2 separate regions of the Homo sapiens genome follow, and region 1 is linked to region 2. A link means that fine-mapping ties the variant in region 2 to the plasma level of a protein whose gene starts in the linked region. Region 2 holds a variant in brackets. A gene starts in the other region. All regions are shown on one strand. Distances are between the middles of the regions.

The links. A credible set is the group of variants that fine-mapping cannot tell apart. PIP is the posterior inclusion probability: the model's chance that the variant is causal. Protein levels are from antibody-based Olink assays in UK Biobank. Linkage for the fine-mapping came from a reference panel and not from the study's own genotypes, which makes the PIPs less certain.
Region 1: it holds the start of CD1C, and the variant in region 2 is the best candidate, but not a certain one, in a credible set for the plasma level of the CD1C protein (UK Biobank, PIP 0.58).

Annotation. Positions count from the first base shown.
Region 1 is chr1:158,285,911-158,297,412 of GRCh38, reverse strand. It overlaps CD1C (CD1c molecule), which reads right to left and starts at 7,490. Exons shown (of 6, transcript NM_001765.3): 1 at 7,288-7,490; 2 at 6,013-6,279; 3 at 5,048-5,329; 4 at 4,539-4,817; 5 at 4,111-4,201; 6 at 2,639-3,958. The coding sequence starts at 7,348. The coding sequence ends at 3,937. It also overlaps a transcript of CD1B not described here. RefSeq lists an enhancer at 10,440-10,569.
Region 2 is chr1:59,621,145-59,629,144 of GRCh38, reverse strand. It overlaps FGGY (FGGY carbohydrate kinase domain containing), which reads right to left. Exons shown (of 16, transcript NM_018291.5): 10 at 3,096-3,157. Among named protein-coding and RNA genes, the nearest start is that of MIR4711, 110 kb to the left of the region's middle. The variant C/A (reference allele first, on the strand shown) is at 3,649.

The DNA of each region.
Region 1 (11,502 bases), 99 Mb before region 2:
GGTGGTAATAAATTTCCTTAGCATTTGCTTTGCTGAATTTCTCTTTAACATATAAATCTTACTTGGGCTGGATATGAAATTTTGGGTCAGAATTTCTTTTCTTTAACAATGCTGAATATAGGCCCTCAATGTCTTCTGGCTTCTAAGGTTTCTGCTGAAAGGTATGCTGTTAGCTTGATTGGGGTCCCTTTGTAGGTGACCTGCTCCTCCTCTCTGGTTGCCTTTAGTATTTTTTTCTTTCACATTGACCTTGGATAATCTTATTATTGTGTATCTTGAGGATGGTTTTCTAGTGTAGTATCTCTCAGGAGTTCTCTGAATTTCTTGAATTTGAATGTTGACCTCTATAGTGAAGTTGAGAAAATTGTCATGGACAATATCCTCATATATGTTTTCAATTGTTTGCACACTCTCTCTCTCTCTCTTTCAGGGACATCAGTGAGTACAGGTTTGGTCTCTTTACATAACCTCATATTTCTCAGAGATTTTGTTCATCCTTCTGTATTATTTTTTCTTTATTTTGTGTGACTGAGTTAATTAGAAGAACTGGTCTTTGAGCTCTGAGATTCTTCCCTCAGTGTGGTCTATTCTGCCTTTAATACTTCCAATTGTATTATAAAATTCTTTAGTGAATTTTTTAGCTCTGTCAAATCAGCTTAGTTCTTTCTTAAAATGGCTATTTTGTCTTTCAGTTATTGTATTATTTTACTGGATTCCTTAAATTCTTTGGATTCCATTTCAACTTTCTCCTGAATCTCATGATTTTCATTGCCATCCAGATTCTAAAATCTATGTCTATTATCTCAGCCATTTTAGTCTGGTTAGGAAAGATTGTTGGGGAGCTAGTGTGTTCATTTGGAAGTAAGAAGACACTCTGACTTTTAGAGCTGCCTGAGTTCTTCCACGGGTTCTTTCTCATCTATGTGGGCTGATGTTCCTTAAACGTTTAAAGTTGCTGTCCTTTTGATGGGGCCTTTTGCTTTTATATTCTTTGATGCCCTTGAGGCTTTGACTATGGTATAGGTTTGGGTCAGTGAGCTAGCTTTATTTCTTGATGATTTCAGGGGGCCATGGCTCAGCTCAGCACTCCTGGGCTATATGCTCTAAGACTGAGGGCCTGGGACCAGGCCCAGAACCTTGTTCTTTGGCCCCTTGAGACTGAGCACCTGCTTCACTGGAGGGGGCCAAGGTGCTCCCAGTCCACTAGCAACAACACTCCTATGGTGGGCAGGGTGGGGGGGTCCCAGAAAAGCATTTCATAAGGGCAGTGGCGGTGGGGGTCTGCTCTCACATGCATGTACTGGCAGCAGTGGGGCAGTGGCATGGTGGGGTCCACACTCACTCACATGCTGGTGGTGGTGGGGCAGCAGGGTAGAAGGTCCATGCACATGTACACCAGGGATGGTAGTGTGGCAGGGTACATGCACGCATGTAGGCTAGTGGGGACAGTGCAGCAGTGGTGAGGTCTCCATGCATATGTGCACAGAAGTGGTAGCAAGGCAGTGATGTCTGTGTATGTATGCCAGCAAAGCAGTTGTGGGTGCTGAAGGCAGGTGCATGCTGATGTGAGGCCAGTGACAGAAGCTATTTGGTGGTTTGGTGGGGTCAGCCAGTGAAAGACCTATGGCAGTGGTCTCTGAGAACTGCCTCAGTTGAACATCTGAGGCTGTGCTGCAAGCAGGTACAGACAGGCAGGGATCCTGGGAGAGGCCAGCAGACATGGGGTGGGGGGCTCAGATCAGTCTAGCCCCATCCAAATATCATGGTAGCCCTATTCTGTCCAGGTCTGATAGTCAACAAAGGGGTCAAAGCCACCTAGAGGAGCATGCCAATCCTCGGGTAATGGACATCCCTAACCATGCTCCACTGTAGCTGTTCTCACACCAAACCCTCTGGGTTCCATAGAAGCTGGAGTCCTGTCCCTGCCAACTCTGCAAGTAGCTTTCCCTGCCAACTCAAATGTCTGTGTGGGTCGTGGGGGTCTCCTGCAGCTAGGATTCCAGAGGTTCATGGATAGAGTGGGCCACTTCATGCCTATTTAACCAACCCCTTCCCTAGAAGCCACTGAGGACCAAGAATAAGTCCTAGTGTTTGGCAACCCTGTGTAGGGTTCGCAGCTTCTTCCCCCCTTCAGCCCAGGGTCTGCATTCTCCCTCCATCCACTCTCAATGCCTTCTTTCCAATGATCTTCTCAGAGTATACTGCTCTTCTTGATGGTCTTGTCTCTTGGTGGGAGAAGCTCTTCCTGGCTGCATCTAGTCAGCCATCTTGTCTCTTCTCCCAAAAATAAGTTTAATTTTATATATTTTTGGCTTTATTTCCCAGTTTCCTGGGTGTCCTAGAATCCTCTCTATTGATCTCTCTGTATCTGCAGGTCACAGGGTGACTAAGGGTGCAGGAGAGTCACCTAGGGCCTCCTGGTGCCAAGGAAATGAGCAATGGAAGCAGGACCCAAGCTGGGTGAGTGGGCACAAGGAGACAAAGGCCCTGCCAGATCTGGGAAGCCACCTCCTCCTCCAAAAAAAGTTATATTCATACATGGAATTCTATTCAGCAATGAAAAGGAATGGTTACTAATACACTGAGCAGCATGGATTACTTACAACCATATGCTAAACTGAAGAAAAATAAAAGGCAATACCAAGTAGATATGTTTATTTCCATCTTAATAAAATCATAGAAAATACAAGTTTAAGCTTAAGTGACATAAAGTATATCAGTAGTTGCAAGAATGCCAGGTTGTTGGTGTGCTTGACTACAAACAGGTATGAGGGGTTATGACATTTAATATCTTGATTGTGATTTTGTTTACATGGGCTTATATAATTATCAAAATAAATAGAACTGTACACTTAAAGATTCAAATTTTACTATAAATTATACATCAATAAAATCTATTTAAAATTTTTTGAAATAAATAAAAACATGAAAACAATAGAAAAGAAACATGGACAGATTGAGGAAGCAAACATTGCAACTTCAGGAGAGTGGACACAATCTCATTTGTTTTATCCACCACCAGTTTAGAAGCTGTATGTGCCTGTCTCAACTCAGTACCCAAAAAATATTAGTTGAATTAGTGAATGAAACCTAAAGGGACTAAAGTTTAGCCAAGGCTATCTCAGATAACACAGTCCTTTAGGAAATTTGTCTTCCATATACAGCACAACGGTTGCCTTGATCCCACTCCAACCCTGAGGACCAAATCTCTTGTTCCTTTTCTTAAGTATTCTGTGACATATCTGCACCACTGATCATCACATGTAACTTGCACACTCTCTGTCTATTTGCATTTGTAATTCTCTGTGTTTAGAAAATAAGTGTATCAAGGCACAAGGCTGCACTTTTCCTTAAATGTTTAAGGAGAAAATGAGGGAGCTAAAGGAGAGTGGAATTTATCTGCTAGGTATGAAGCATTTAAACAAAAAGAGAAGCATGAATATTTCCAATGCTACAACAACATTGGGAAGGAATATAATGAGAAAAATTGTCAACATGACAGTTAATCCAACTTAGATATGATGTTTTGTTTTGTGTTTCACTGAGCCTATCATATGCAGGAAAGGCACATTTATCATGATCCTTGCCTCCTAAAAGCTTAAAAATGTGAAATGAAAGACTCAAGTAGCTGCAACACAGGGTAGGAAGTGTTGCATGCACATAACAGTTGAGGGGCTCTCTGGGTTCAGTATGGGTCAAGGAAGATCGTTGGAGGAAATGACATCAGAAATGGGCTTTGAAGGTTGAGTGCTATATAAAAAGTGGAGATTCCAAGAAAAACATTCCAAATTAGAATTTGGTTTTTATTAACAAATGTTTATTATGCAGAAAGAGAAACAATTTAAATGGAGAGTCGACGGGATGGCATCACTATATTGTACTAGGCTCCTGGGTTGCTGGGTTCTTAACACAATGGGGGAGTCAGGGGGAAGAGTCTCACAGGATGTCCTGATATGAGCTGTGAAGGAACAGGAATGGGAGAAACCCTGAATAAGTTGGAGGTGGTAACTGAGGATAAGGTGGAGTAGTCAATAGAGAAAAGCTAAGAGAGTGAAAAATGGAATGTGAAATAAGAAACTGGGAGGAGAGGAGGAAATACAAAAAACTCACCAGTGCTTCTTAAACCATAACACAAGGACTATTAGAATCACCAAGGGCACTATCACTACCAAGGCAATCCAATTCATGGAAAAGTGGTGTCCTGCACATATTGGAAAGATACATGGATGCCATTTTAAACTCACTGCTGATTCTATTCCATCTATTGATTTCCTTACTTAACATATGCATTGGATGAGTTGCATCAGTTATCCTATTTCAGTCACTCTATTCCAAAACTTACTCAAGGAAGGATTCCTCATTTCCCCTTAAATCTCTAGTATCCATGTATCCCTTAGGTCTTACTCCACTATTCTTTAAATTACCCTATACATTTCTTCCTACAATCCCTCACCTAGGTCTGCTATCCTCAAAATTTCCTCTCCCCTAACCTCTAGGCTCAAGAACCACCTACCTACACTTCCAACCTCCAGTCTTACCCCAGTAGAGGATGATGTCCTGGCCTCCTAGACTGCTGTGTCTCACTCGACAAGACAGGCCAGCAGGCTCCTCAGATGCCACCTCCAGGATCACCTGAAGATACCATGTCCCATCAGCATTAGGAAGAATATCACCATGTTTAGTGCCCAGTTGCTCCTGTTCATTCCGCATCCATGTCACCCAAACAGGCTTTGGGTAGAAGCCGGAGGCATGACAAACCAGCAACAGCTGGCCAGACCCAAGGCTGGGGCGACTGGACAGCCAGGCTTCTGGCCTCACTGCAGAGAGCAGAAAAAGTGTTCTGATGAAGAAACTTACACACAACTTACATCCACATACACACATCCACATGAATATGCACAGTTATCTTTTTCCTGCCTCTAAGAAACTATTACCCAGCAACCCCCCTGCTTCTTGTCCTCTTTCTTGTCCTGAGTTTGAAGGGTGGGAACAGAAGGGGCAGTACTTGAATAGAAAAATCTTAGAGGAAGGGGCTGAAACTACTGACCTTGCCTGTGTACATACATCTTCCCTGCATCCAGGAGACCCAAGAGAAATCGGGGGCAAGTGCTTCTTATGAGATTATACACTGTTTCTGTGACGCCTTCATACTGATGATTGAGTAGATGACAGACACTTTGGGCCAAACTTCCACAGCCTGGAGATGGCACCCATGTTGTATTCTGGAAACTCAGTAAATCTAATCCGTTGAAAGCTACCTGAAAGAAGCCTTCTGGGCTCTTTCCAGAATGCAGCTCACAGCCCGCTTTCACCTGTACTTCAAAGGGATCTGGAGGAAGGGAGGAATGAGAAAAAGAGTTCAAACAAAAAAGTGAAAACAACAGTATAAAAACCTAGGGCTGTATCAGGAAGTGAAGCAAGAAAGTTTTACATGGATGTGAGAGTGAGCCAAAGACATATTTGATCAGAAACAAGAGAGAAAAATTGCTGGGGATAGGGAAGGGGACAATAAGAGATAAATGCCTTGAATTAACAAGAAAAAGTGGCCAAGGAAGATGTGGAAAAATGATAGGTGAGCCACATAATATAGGATAGAGGGTGAAGGGGGAGCCTTTGTGAGGGAGGTAGGAGGATAGCATTCCATGACGCATGAAATTGGTCATAATGGTCATTGAACTGTGGACATAGATCTTTGAAGAAATTGAATGGGGGAATAGATTTTATTTTAAGGGAGTCAAGCACAGAGTGGGACAGCTGTGTATCTCTGGATTGTAGGATACAGAGGGAGACCACAGGTGGAAGATAACAAAGCACAAGAAAAAAAATTCCAAAAATAGCAAGAGCCTAGGAAATTTGAGGGAGTCAACATCAGGAATATCCCTTAAAAGGTTCATCTATGCAGAATTTTATGGTGGGATGGGATAATGGGAAATGGCCCAAAAATTAGTAGAGAATATTTCCCTGAAATAGAACATTCTAAAGAACTCCCATAATTTAGATGATTGAACTTACATTTCGAGTAATCTTGACTTGCATGGTCTTGAATCTCCCGAGTTAATCCAAAGAGGTAGAAACGAAATAACAACTCTAGGTCTGACAACTCTTCATTGCTGAAGTTGCCCTTGGACCAGTTATGCAGGAAAATTATTGTGCCTGATTCACTGTCCCAGCCATGAGTCTGCAACTCGTCCAGCCATCCTGAGCCCTGACCTCGTGCCCAGGATTGGTTGACAAATGAGAAGATCTGGATGACATGGAAGGAGACGTGTTCCTGGGATGCTTTTGGTGGAAGAAGGGCAAGTAGTGTAAGGAAAAAAAAAAAAAGAGAGGCAAGGAAAATGGAGAGAAAATGGAAGGTGAACCAGTTACCACAGAGAAACATTAATGACTACTTTAGCTATACCATTTTCCTTACACAGAGCCCCATGCTCTGCCACCATCCTCTAAAAGAGTAAACTGGACCTGGAGAGAGGTATGCTCAAATGGCAACCATTCTGGCTTCTTCATTGATCCATCTTGGGAAAGCCCATCATGCTCAACCCAGATACATGTAACCTTGCAGCTGACAGAGATGTTCATACTATCTGCATTGTCACCACCGGGGAGGAGAAGAACTAGCAGCGGAAACTACAGAAACAGCATGTCATTTGCAGTTGTTTCCTTCTCTCAGAAAAGCCATTTGCTGATCTCTGTTCTTAGCAAACTTATCCCTCTACATCTATATTCTGACTTCCTTCTACCAACAGACAATCTTCCCCATCAGCCACTGACAGCAACTAAGACAATCTGCTTCCCTTAACCTTAGGCCTCCTACTCAATCTCTCATTTCCCCATCTGCTCTGAACTAAAGTTACTCTCTTCCCTTAGGATTTTAGCTGCTCTCCCACTAAGCTCCATCTTATCTACTTCCCTTCCTCAACTGCCTTAGACAAAGTGGTGCGTGGCATTGAAAGGTTGCTTCATCCCTCTGGACCTTGCGTGTCATTTGTAACATAAAAAGGAGAAACCACATCATTTTCCTGGGCCCTGATTGTTTTAACGGAAAATGGAGAGGAAATGGAAATTGAACCAGTTACCACAGAGAAACATTAATGACTACTTTAGCTATAACATTTTCCTTACACAGAGCCCATGCTCTGCCACCATCCTCCAAAAGAGTAAACTGGACCTGGAGACAGGTATGCTCAGATGGCAAGCATTCTGGCATCTCTATTGATCCATCTCGGGAAAGCCCAGCACACTCTACCCAGATACATGTAACCTTGCAGCTGACAGCGATGTTCTTACCGTCTGCATTGTCACCACCTGGGAGAAGAAGAGCTAGCAGCAGAAACTGCAGAAACAGCATGTCATTTGCAGATGTTTCTTTCTCTCAGAAAAGCTGTTTGCTGATCTCTGTTCTTAGCAAACTTATCCCTCTGTACCTATATTCTGACTTCCTTCTACCAACAATCTTCCCCATCAGCCGCTGACAGCAACTAAGAAGATCTGCTTCCCTCAACCTTGGTCCTCCTACTCAATCTCTCATTTCCCCACCTGCTCTGAACTAAAGTTATTCTCTTCTCTCAGGATTCCAGCTGCTCTGCCACTAAGCTCCATTATATCTACTTCCCTTCCTCAACTGCCTTAGACAAAGTGGTGTATGGCATTGAAAGAAAGGTCATTTTGTCCCTCTGGATTTTGCATGTCATTTGTAAGATAAAAAGGAGAAACCATGTCATTTTTTCAGTTCCTGCTTGTTTTAATAGATCACAGTTCTTCCAGTTTCTCCACTTAACTTTGCCTCCACTCTCCATAGTGTCCCCTCTTCTCATCACTCCATTCTTTCTTTCCCCCTTTTGAATGTCCTCAAAGTTTTCTCTTTCCAATTTCACCTCTTTTCACCCATCTTTCTTATTTCCTCATTCTCACTGATTCTTTTATAAATTGGAGACGTTGCTTTTTACATCTTCCAAGATTTCCCTGCACAATTATATAAACTACAGTCCACTCTACATTATCCTTAGAGATTAAATTGCAGCCATTCAGAATGCATAGGACCATAACAAATATAAAGAAGCCCTTCTACTGCATTTAATCTGTATAGTCATTCACTAAAAAATTACATAGTACATGGTTGATACCAGTGTCTTACTAGGCATATAAACACACAGAGGTTAACAATGTAATCTCTTCTATCAAAGAGTTTTAAACTGCAGATGTTTAAACAAAAAATTAAAATGCATTGTGATTTTAATTTCAATGTATAGAATCCCAGATACAAATCTACTTAGAACTATATTCTCTAGAGCAGCATTTTGACTGACTAACCCCCTGGGAAGTTCATAATTTGAAGTCCTGGAAGAACAGCATGCATCTCAACTAAATACTGAAAATTCTGTACAGTGTGGAATGGTATACGATTGTGATAGTCAGAACATGCAGCTTTTCAAGAGGACTCATACATGGGGAGACCACAAAAATCCAAATTTAAGTTGTTTTGTGATCTGACCAAAACACATTGTATAAAAAGGGCAGCATTTGTCAATGTTTGATTTAAGTAGTTTATATGAAGTATTCAGTGACTTATCAGTGACCCTGGCTGGTTAATATGTGTAAATACATGAACACAGTTTTTTTGAGATCCAGGAAATACATTTATTATTATAGTGTTTCTTAAATCATATTAATTATTCACTGAATGCATTGGAGCAGTCACTTAAAATCTGGGCATGAATTTGTGCTAGGCACAATGACTCATGCCTGTAATCCCAGCACTTTGGGAGACCAAGGTGGGAAGATCACTTGAGCCCAGGAGTTTGAGACCAGCCTGGGCAACAAAGTTAGACCTCATCTCGATAAAAAAATTAAAAAGTTGGCCAAATGTGGTGGCACATGCCTGTAGTCCCAGCTAAATGGGAGGCAGAGGCAGGAAGATCTTTTGAGCCCTGAAAGTCAGGGCTGTAGTGAGCCATGTTCATGTCACTGTACTCCAGCCTGGGTAACAGAGCAAGACCGTGCCTTAAAAAGGAAAATCCCATTTGTAACATTGTTTCTGTTTTAAATTTATATTTATTCTATGTATTTACTGTGTACAACATGATACTTTGATATATACACTATTTCTTAGGTTTGTCAACGTTAATAGTGAGGCCAGAAGTCATTCTCAATGAGCTCTTCCTATCATGGCCACAGATATGTGGCAATTTCTATGAACTATAATATCTTTAAGAGCAATACCCAGTTCAAATCCTACCCAAATCATTCATAAGCACTAGGTGTTATCTTTGCTCATCTTGTGCTGTTAATGGCAAATACTTGGTTTGTGGTTTTAGAAAACAATAGTAGATACCACATTATGTGTTTATTCACATTTTTTTCCATGTTCCTACAGGAAAGATGCAACTGTCCTATTTCCTAATAGTTGGGTTAAGGTCATGGACTGAGTTCTGGGCAATGGAATGTGTGGTGTTGGAAGCATTAGCCAGCTCCAGTCCTGACCACTGAAAATATCACATCTGATCATCTTACCCTGTGGTACCAACTTGGCAGTCAAATTTCTAAATGGCAAGACTATGAGATGGAGAAGAGCAGCCTGATCTACATGCAGTTTAACTGCATGAGAAATAAACTTCATTGTGTTAAGCCTCCAAGTTCTAAAGTTTATTTATAACTGCAACATAACCTAGCTATATTGGATAATATTATAAAACCCAGTAAGTATCATCCTTTTTGCCCTCTTGAATTCAGAAGCAAACAAGTTGAAAATAACATGAGATAGATGGATCTAATGGTCAATCTTGACTTCTGATAGTGCCACTAGATAATTTGCTTTAAGTGTGTAATCCAAGTGATCTTGCTCATACTGGACCCTAAATGGAGTGGCCTTCTCATTGTTATGGACTGAAAGTTTGTGTACCCTCCCAAAGAAAAAAAAAATCACATGTTGAATCCCTAACTCTCAGTGTGATTATATTTGGAAATGGGGCCTCTAAGAAGTAATGTCAATCTCATGTCTAAACGGTAAGACCCTGATCCAATAGGCTTAGTGTCCTTATAAGAAGAGACACTGGAGTGCCCTTCCACTTTCCTTCTCTGTCTCTCTGTCTCTCCCTGTCGCTCTCTGTCTCTGTGTGTGTGTGTGTGTGTGCACCCACCATGGAAAGGCCATATGAGCTCATAGTGAGAAGGCAGTTGTCTGTATAAACCAGGAAGAGAACCTTCACTAGAAACTGAGTCTTCCAGATGGAGACTTTGAACTTCTAGCCTCTAGAGCTGTGAGAGAATAACTTCCTGTTGTTTAAGCCACCCAGCTGATTGCCTTGTGTTAGCACAGCCCAAGAAGACTAATACACTCACTTATTTCAGGCAATGCTGATAAAACCCTAAGTTCCCCACCTGAGCAGCTGTTCCTGTGAGAGCCAGGGCCTGGAGGAGGAGAGCAAGACTGAGCCTTTGGGGAGCAACTTGCCCAGAGAGGTAAAGGGCAGTAGGAGGTGCTGATATATACTTGCCCAGTTTCCCTCCTGAATTTATCAGTGAGATAAATCAGTCTGTTTTCAGAGGAAAGATTAAGGGGTGAGGAAAAAAAAACAAAAAGTATTTATGGGAAATTCCCCCTCAGGGTGCCTAGAAGAGTAAGTAACACCCTCACCCCCATCATGGCAATACGCATTCAAATAGATACCTAGAAATGTGTGTTCTCCGAAAACTTCCCTCTCCTTTGCTCCACACAGTCACCATGTCATTTCTCTCCCTCCACCTGGTTTTTCCTCTCTGATCTGACTGATATGTAGTCCTGCTTTCATCCTGTGGGACAGAGATCACAGCCACAGTCCCTGCCGGTGTGTCACAGTCCATATCCCTCCATGTCCATGCAGTGCTCTGCCCCAGAGCTGCCATGGAAAACGTGATCCTTAGAATGTCTATCAGCCTAAAATATTCAAATTGCTTTCATGAAAAATAACCCAGACTCCTAAGTATGACAATTTTATACACAAGAGTTTATGTACATCTATCCCTAAAAAGGAAGGGTGGAGGTAGTGTAAGAAGGGAAACTGGCAGACTCTTTACACTGGTGAATACTTATAAATATAGATGCAAGAATCTGAAATTGATATAAAATGCAATGGGGAGAGGAGTAAGTGGTTATTAAGCTCTCTGAACACACAAAATCCTAAGAGAATAATCTGAAGTGGGTAGGACACCCTATGATTAGAACCCAGCCTGAACAGAGGGGCTGGGTTGTCCCGAGGGAGCCCAGTGCTCTTCCTGTCCTTCCCCAACTTCCCTTTTCTTGTCCTTTTGCTCAGACCACAGACGTTGTTGTGTTTGCCTTCGCCTGGGCTCTTCTTGCCTGTCACTTCCCTAAGACCACTCTAGTGGGTGACTTTTGCACCCCGAGAGAGAGAGAGATTTCCTCAGAACTCCAGTGTCATGTTCCCACCCCACACAGCTCTGTCATCCCTTCCTCCCAGCAGAAACCTTGCCCTCTGCCTACTTCCCCATTACGGAAACCCCACA
Region 2 (8,000 bases):
TGGTTTGCTGCACCCGTTAACTCGTCATTTACATTAGGTATTTCTCCTAATGCTATCCCTCCCCTATCCCCCCATCCCACGACAGGCCTCGGTGTGTGATGTTCCCCAACAGTAATTTTTATCATTACCATTTTTTTAGTTGAACACCTATTACAGCCTGACTCTTAATCATCACTCTGTATCACCCATTATTCTAATTCATTTAATTTTCTCAACAACCTTATGAAATGTTTACTATTATTCCCTTTACAGTGAGGTACTAAGGCACAGAGGTTAAGTAAATAGCCCAGAAACAGAAAGTGAATAAGCGACAAAGCTGAGGCAAAGGCAATTTGGCTTCAGAGTCTATTAGTGGCCACCTTAGACTATCTCTCTTTTGTCCTGTGCTAGCTAGCTACATGGGTTTCTCTGATAATTCTATAAAAATATCTTACTTTACTTAAACAGCCTGACAACTAAGCATTATCAGCATGAAAATCCATTCATTATTTTTTAGACTTTTTATTTCAAAATAATTTTAGATTTACACAAAAGTTACAAAAATAATACACAGAGTTCCCTTTTACTCATCACCTAAGAAATTGCCATAAATAACAATACTATTAATCTCTATTTGAATTTCAACAGTTTTCCTCCACCAATGTCCTTTCTCTGGTCCAGAGTTGAATCCATGATTATATACTGCTTACAGCTGTAGTACCTCCTTAAGTCTCCTCCAATCTAGGACAGTTCTTCAGTATTTAAGTTTCTTAATTTTCCTTTGGAGCAAACTGGCTAATAGCTTTGTGGAATGTCAATCTAGGTTTGTCTGATGCTTCCCATATTTACACTGAGTTTAATCATTTTGGGCAAGAACATGGCAGAAATGATGTTGTATCTTTATCGGTGCCTCATAAAAGGAGATACATGATATCACTACATGTTATTGCTGGTGTTGTTTACTTTCATCACTTGGGTAAGGTGGTGTCTGCCATACTTATATACTACTGGAAAGTTATTATTTTCCTCTTCCTATTACTCAGTATCTTGTACTGAAATCCTCTGGGTTTATGAAAATATCCTGCTTCCCACTTTTACTCACTAATTTTAGCATCCATTAATGATTCTTGCCTACAACATTTATCTCTGTAGTGTTTACCTAATGTTGATTATCTATTTCCATTATTTCTTCTACATTTATTAATTGTAAGGCTACTGTCCTGACAGTGAAGAGGAAGACCTGTCATTTCGTCCTCGTTTATTTCCTTCTTCAGTAGTTTACTTACAAAGTTATTTACTTATGGACTTACTTTACGCTATTACTGTTTATTTTATCCTGAGTAGGCCACTGAGAGATTCTTAAAGTTGGTTCCAATGTACCTTGACAATTCCTTGTTGAGTAACTTTTTTCTTTCTGGCACCATAATTTTACTGCCGCAGCGTAGACTCAGCCATCTTTCTAAGAAGTCCTGATTACTTTTATTGGAGAAATGGGAGAATGGTACTTAGAATACAGTACCTGTGAGCTAGGTACACACATTGCTACTATCGTGTCATTGCTTCCAAGCCATCTCAGCAGAGAGACCTAGGGAGTATATGCATGTATATTCATGCATGAATATACATATCTATATTTACTTATATTTATATCCAGCTGTGTGTGTGTGTGTGTGTGTATATATATATATATATATATATATATATATATATAAAATCATAAGTTGATATTGACACCATGAGGTTCATTCTAACCTTCTCCTTTTCCCATTTGTGAGGAACCTGGCTCTTATTATCCACAATATATTGATTTCTTCACTCAACTGTAGCATACACATAAAGAGTTGTCACTATAGCTAACATATACACCTATGAAAAACAGATTTACCAATTAGAGTATAATATTTATGTATGGTTATTTTTCTCTTTAGCCATATGGCATATAGTCAAAATATTCTTTCCCAAATTTACTTAGGTTCTTTTCTTTTTTCTTTTCCTTTCTTTTCTTTTCCCAACCCCCTTTGTAATACAGTAGGTTCAGTTTTTACTGTGTGCATTTCATTTTGCCCATGCCAACATACACATATATCCTGGTTATCTATCACCTATTTTATCGGGGTATCAGGGACATGAGGCATGACAATAATTCTAAGAGTTATAGTTATATAAAAAGGTATACTCAGAGAAGTGTCATTTCTTCCTACTACCATGGTCCCATTCCCACATTCTTTCCACCCCATTCCTACCCACCCCCTGTAGGTAACTAATCTTATTATTTTCTGGTTTAAACTTCCTGTATTTCTTTTTTTTTTTTGAGACGGAGTCTCACTTTATTGCCCAGGCTGGAGTGCAGTGGCACGATCTCTGCTCACTGCAACCTCCACCTCCCGGGTTTGAGCAATTCTCCTGCCTCAACCTCCCAAGTAACTGGGATTATAGGCATACATCACCATGCCCGGCTAACTTTTGTATTTTTAGTAGAGATGGGGTTTCACCATGTTGGCCAGGCTGGTCTCGATCTCTGAACTCGTGATCTGCCCGCCTCGGCCTCCCAAGGTGCTGGGGTTACAGGAGTGAGCCACCGCACCTGGCCACTTCCTATATTTCTTTTGCAAAAATGAACAGATACACATGTATTTTCCTATGTCTTTCTTTTTACATGAAAGGGAGTATATCGTAAATTTTTTTTGCACTCAGCTTGCTTCAAAATATTCTAGAAATCACTCCATATCAGTTATTATCTTCAGTTTTACAGATGAAGAGACAGGCATAAAGAGGTTAAGTAACTAGCTCAAGGTCCTGTATCTATTAAGGAGTATGGCTGGGATGTGAAACTAAGAAGTTTTGACTCCAGAATCCATGGTCCTTCTTCTACATCAGAGTTTCTTATCTATAGTCCCTGGGTATATTCTTGGGGTATCTCTAGGTTCTCTAAGTTCTCTTACCTCATTTAAAGAATTAATACATCTATCTTCTGGATCATCCAGGTGACTATCTTTCAAGCACTAACAGGCATTTTCATTGTCTGTAGGATCTGAAAATCACCCAACTGCCCAACGTGAATTCTCTCAATACAGTCACACAAGGAAAATTTTAGAGGGAACAGAGACAGCAGTTACCTGGCTGTGGCCTTTACTTGTAGTTCTGGAAAAGCAGCATGGCCTTGTACCATGTGGTCTATCTGAAAAATAAGAGACATGGGTCAATTTTATAGCTTCTTTAATTTATGTATAAGATAGAAAAATTTATATTAAAATGAGTATATGTTTCTTTCAACTCTTTGTCCATACGGGTTCCAAGAACATTAAAATGCCAATGTAGCAAGAGTGCCTCAGCTAAAAGAAATTTAGCTTTGATTTAACCTACTGCTAGCCTCTTAAATACATAAAACAAAGAAGTTTAGAGAGAAGAGTAAACAGAAATGAAATTTCCAAGGCTAAACTGGTAGAAGCAGGTTAGCAACAGGCCCAAGAATGAGAAGGAAGGGTAACTTATGTCAAATGGGGGGGGTCTGAGTGTTAAAAGCACCAACCTTTTCTGGATCACATCATTTCCCCTTCTTGATCTAGGCTGTCATCCCTGGGCAATGTCAAACCTTGAATTACTCACTGTGTCTTACTAATGGAGAAGCTGAATGAAAGAGACTATGATGAGGGTTTTTGAAAAAACCCT[C/A]ATTAAAAAAATTTTTTGAAACTCTCAGTTAAAAAAAATTGAGATGCCCCAGACCTGTCAGGAGAAACTCTCCTGACTGAACAATCATCACATGGGAAACACAGCTCTCCAAGGACAGAAATGTCTGAGCTCTGCAGATAATCACCTCTCATTTGAAATCCCAGGTCTAGGATCTTATTCCTTAATCCACTTGGTGGCTCTAAACAAAATAGTATGAAATATGTATCAGGGACAGAAATGTTTCTCCATGCATTTACTCTGCTTGCCATAACACACCCAAGCAACACCGTGCTTGAGTTCCTGAACCTCATCTGTATATTTTCTGAATGTTTACTTGAGTTTCTAGGATGCTAAAACAACCATTCTGATAGATTTATTTTCATTCCAACAAGGAAAAGATTTGGTCTTTTGGCTGCACAGGGATAGGCTCTCTGAGCATGTTTCCTGAGAGCTAGGGCTGTGTAAAGAAGATAATTTGTTCAGGAGACACAGAGGCCAGGGTTGGGTTCTGGCTCTGAGTCTCACTAGCTGAGTGACTTTGTGCAAGTCACTAAACTGTTTTGAACTTCCATGGCCTCCTTTTAAACAGGATTTCTAGGAAGTTAAGTGTGTCTGCTTGATATGGTTTGTCTGTGTCCCCACCAAAATCTCATCTTGAATTGTAACTCCCATAAATCTCACATGTTGTGGGAGGGACCCAGTGGGAAACAACTGAATCATGGGCGCAGTTTCCCCCATACTGTTTCGTAGTAGTGAATAAGTCTCATGAGATTTGATGGTTTCATAAGGGGTTTCCTGTTTTACTTGGCTCTCATTCCCTCTTGCCTGCCGCCATGTTAGACATGCCTTTCGCCTTCTGCTATGATTGTGACGCCTCCCCAGCCATGTGGAACTATGGGTCCATTACACCTCTTTTTCTGTATAAATTACCCAGTCTCAGGTATGTCCGTATCAGCAGTATGAAAACGGACTAATACACTACTATAGTGCCAACAGTAGTATAAATGATATCACGTGAAATATACTGACTCATTTCCCATACATCAGTACTAACTTAAGCATTGTACACACATTACTCTATTTCATTTATTCCTTATAGCACTCCTATGGAGAAGATACTATTCTTCATTATGGAGATGAGGAAACTGAGCTCAAAGAGATTGAATATCTTGCCCAAGGTCACAGTAAAGTAACGACAAATCTAGGTCTCAAACTGCAGTCTCTATATTTTAAGACCTTGTTCTTAACCACCACGTCATATTGTCTACTGAACTTCCAGGTATACGTTGTTGAATACCATTGGTGCAGTTTTTGTGGAAATGTTTCAAAATGATATCAAAGACATTGGTCATTTCAATGAAAAAAAAAAACTCATGCAGTTATTGAATATTTATCTCCTTCAGGTTCAACTTTGCATTACTGTGATGAAGCATATCCTCATCACACTTTGGATCCCCTGAGTTTGCAATCCACTGAGAGCATCAAGATAAACTCGCTGGGAACAGTAATGGATAATTAGAGGCATTACTTGATTTGATGCTAATTTTTATGGGAAGTGCTTTAGGAGTTCAGAGAAGAGAGATTTAAATGAGCTTCCAGGAGTGAGCTAGAACCTAGCATGTGTGGTGTAAGCATGAATGCAGTTATTTAGTATTTACTAAATGCCTAATGTGCCTCCAGGAACTGTGCACCTAGGTTCCGGAGATACACTGAAAAATAAGAAATAGTTATGATGCATAGCAGCACAAAGTGAGAGATCAATCATTTGGCAATCATTATACAGTTGGAGTAGGTGAAGCTTCAGCTGAGAGGCCATAAATAGGTAGAGTTTGGAGGAGTAAAGGGCTAGAGGCAAGGCATGACAGAAAGGAGGCTGGTTAGTAGAGACATGAAAATGGAAAGACATATATGATTTGAATGGTAACGGACTGGTTTAGCCTCATGCCTGGCATAACATGGGTGGTTAATAAAAGTTTGTGGAATAAATGTGGGATGAGTGAACCACAGGAAAAACACAGATAGCACCATGTACTTCTCCTTGGTGGCACTTACCACACTTTGCATTTGTATCTATTTGTGTTGTGCATACATTGGTCATAGGATTACTGTAGGTTAAATTACAGAATTAGTAAACTGGTGAAAATAAGGATGAATAAAGAGGGCGAAGGCAGACAGTGTGTCTTGAATGTCATAAGAGTTTATACTTTTATTAGATCAAAGGCCATAAAAATTATTTTGATTTGGAGAGAAAAATGATGAAAAGTTAAGAAAAATTTGGTAATGTATAAAGGACAGGGAGATGACCAGGCATGGAGAATAGGAAATGCAGACAAAGATCACAGGTTGGCAATGGGAATATAAGGCACAGATATTTTCTATCCTTACTCTACTGTAGCATCTATCAAGTTCTTTTACAATCCTTAGTTATATGTCTGTCTCTTACCCTATACTCTGAGCTCTTTCAAAGCAAGAGCATCATTATTTTCCACTCCTCAGTGCCTAGAGCAATGCTGACATCTCTAATGAATGAATGATGAGACACATTTTGATAACAATTAAAAATGCTGATCAAAATACAGCAAATAGTTCTCTGAAGACACTGGAAAGTGGCCAAAACCAGGTAGAAACTGGAGAGGAGTAGACACAAGGAAGGAAAAAACAGTACTTTGTGTGTTTCCTGATTTTATACATTTTTGCCCATGGGTGGACCCCAGTCAGTGGCATGCAAGATAACTAATACTCAGATAGAAATACACAGTCTTTCTGATTAAGAAATGAGAGGTTAGAGTTCAAGGCAACCATAGTAGCTAGGAAGTAAGTTGTGGAGGGGATGTCAGAAAGAGAGAGCCATAGAAAGGGAATGCAACACTGTGCCTATAAATGCTACCCTAATTTCTGGATGATCTCTCAATTACATGTGCATGGGAACACCAGAAGTAGTCCAGCTAAGGCTAAAATAATGCAACAGAGATTTTAGGACATGTTCATCACAGGAGAGTAACAAAACTTGAAGTTTGAGTTCAGCCAAATAAACTGCCTGCTAAACCAAAAAATCAATACTCAAAAGAGAAACAGAAATAATACAGTGTCTCTAGAATATATCAATCACAATGTCCAAAATATGACCCCAAATCATTATACATATTGAGGAACAGGAAAATGTAATCCATACTTAAGAGAAAAGCCACTTAGTGAACACCAAATCTGAGGTGACACAGGCGTTAGAAGATAAGAATTTTAAAGTAGGTATTTTAACAATGCTTAAGGATGTAAAAGAAAAATATTCTCATAGTTATTAAACAGAGAGGAAACAGCAAAGAAACAAACTATTAAAATACAAATGTAATAGTATTGATTAAATACAATATCTGAAATAAATATATAGTAGATGGGCCTAAGAGCTGATTGGAGATGACCAACAAAAGTGTCCTCGTGAGAATGAGACTTAGACTGGGAGACTTAGAGAGAGAGAAAGAGAGAGAGAGAATATGAATGAGAATATATATTGAAAAAATTAACACCCTGAGTCTCTCAGGGGCATGGGAGACAATAGCCAAAGGTACCATATATGTGGAATTGGAGTCACAGTAAGAGGGAAGAGAGCAAGGAGAAGAAACAAACAAAAAAAAATTAAATGCTGAAAATTTCCCAAACTTGGTGAAAGGAATCAACTTACAAATTCAAGAAAGATGAATCCAAAGAAGACCACGCCATACCGTAATAAAAGCCAAAGATTAAGAGAAAATTTGAAAGCAGCCAGAGGAAAAAAATGACATATTATATAAAGGGAAAGAATGACAAAAATAATGGTTGACTTCTTATAAGAAATAATAATGTCAGAATAGAAAATACTAACATTTTAAGGTGCTGATGGAAAAAAAAACCTGTAAATCAAGAATTCTATAGTGAGCAAAAATATCTTTCAAGGCAGCATATAAAATAAATGCATTGAAAAAAAATAGAGAGAATGTCTTTTGCCAGTTGACCTGCACTGTAAGACATGCTAAGACAAGTTCTTTTTTTTTTTTTTTTTTTTTGAGACGGAGGCTAAGACAAGTTCTTTAGGCTTGGGAAAAGATATCACATGGAAACTCAAATTTTCAGAAAGAAAGGAAAAGCAATAAAAATAGTAATTATGTAGGTAAATACAAAAGACTATGGTTTATTTCTCAGAATTTCTTTAAAACATTTATGTATCTTTGACATGGACTAAACTGTGTTCACCTCAAATTCATATATTGAAGCCTCAATCCCAAATGTGACTGTATTTAGAGATATGGCTCTTACGGGGGTAATTAAGGTTAAACAGCTCATGACAGTGGGGCCTTAATCTGATATAACTGGTGTTCTTA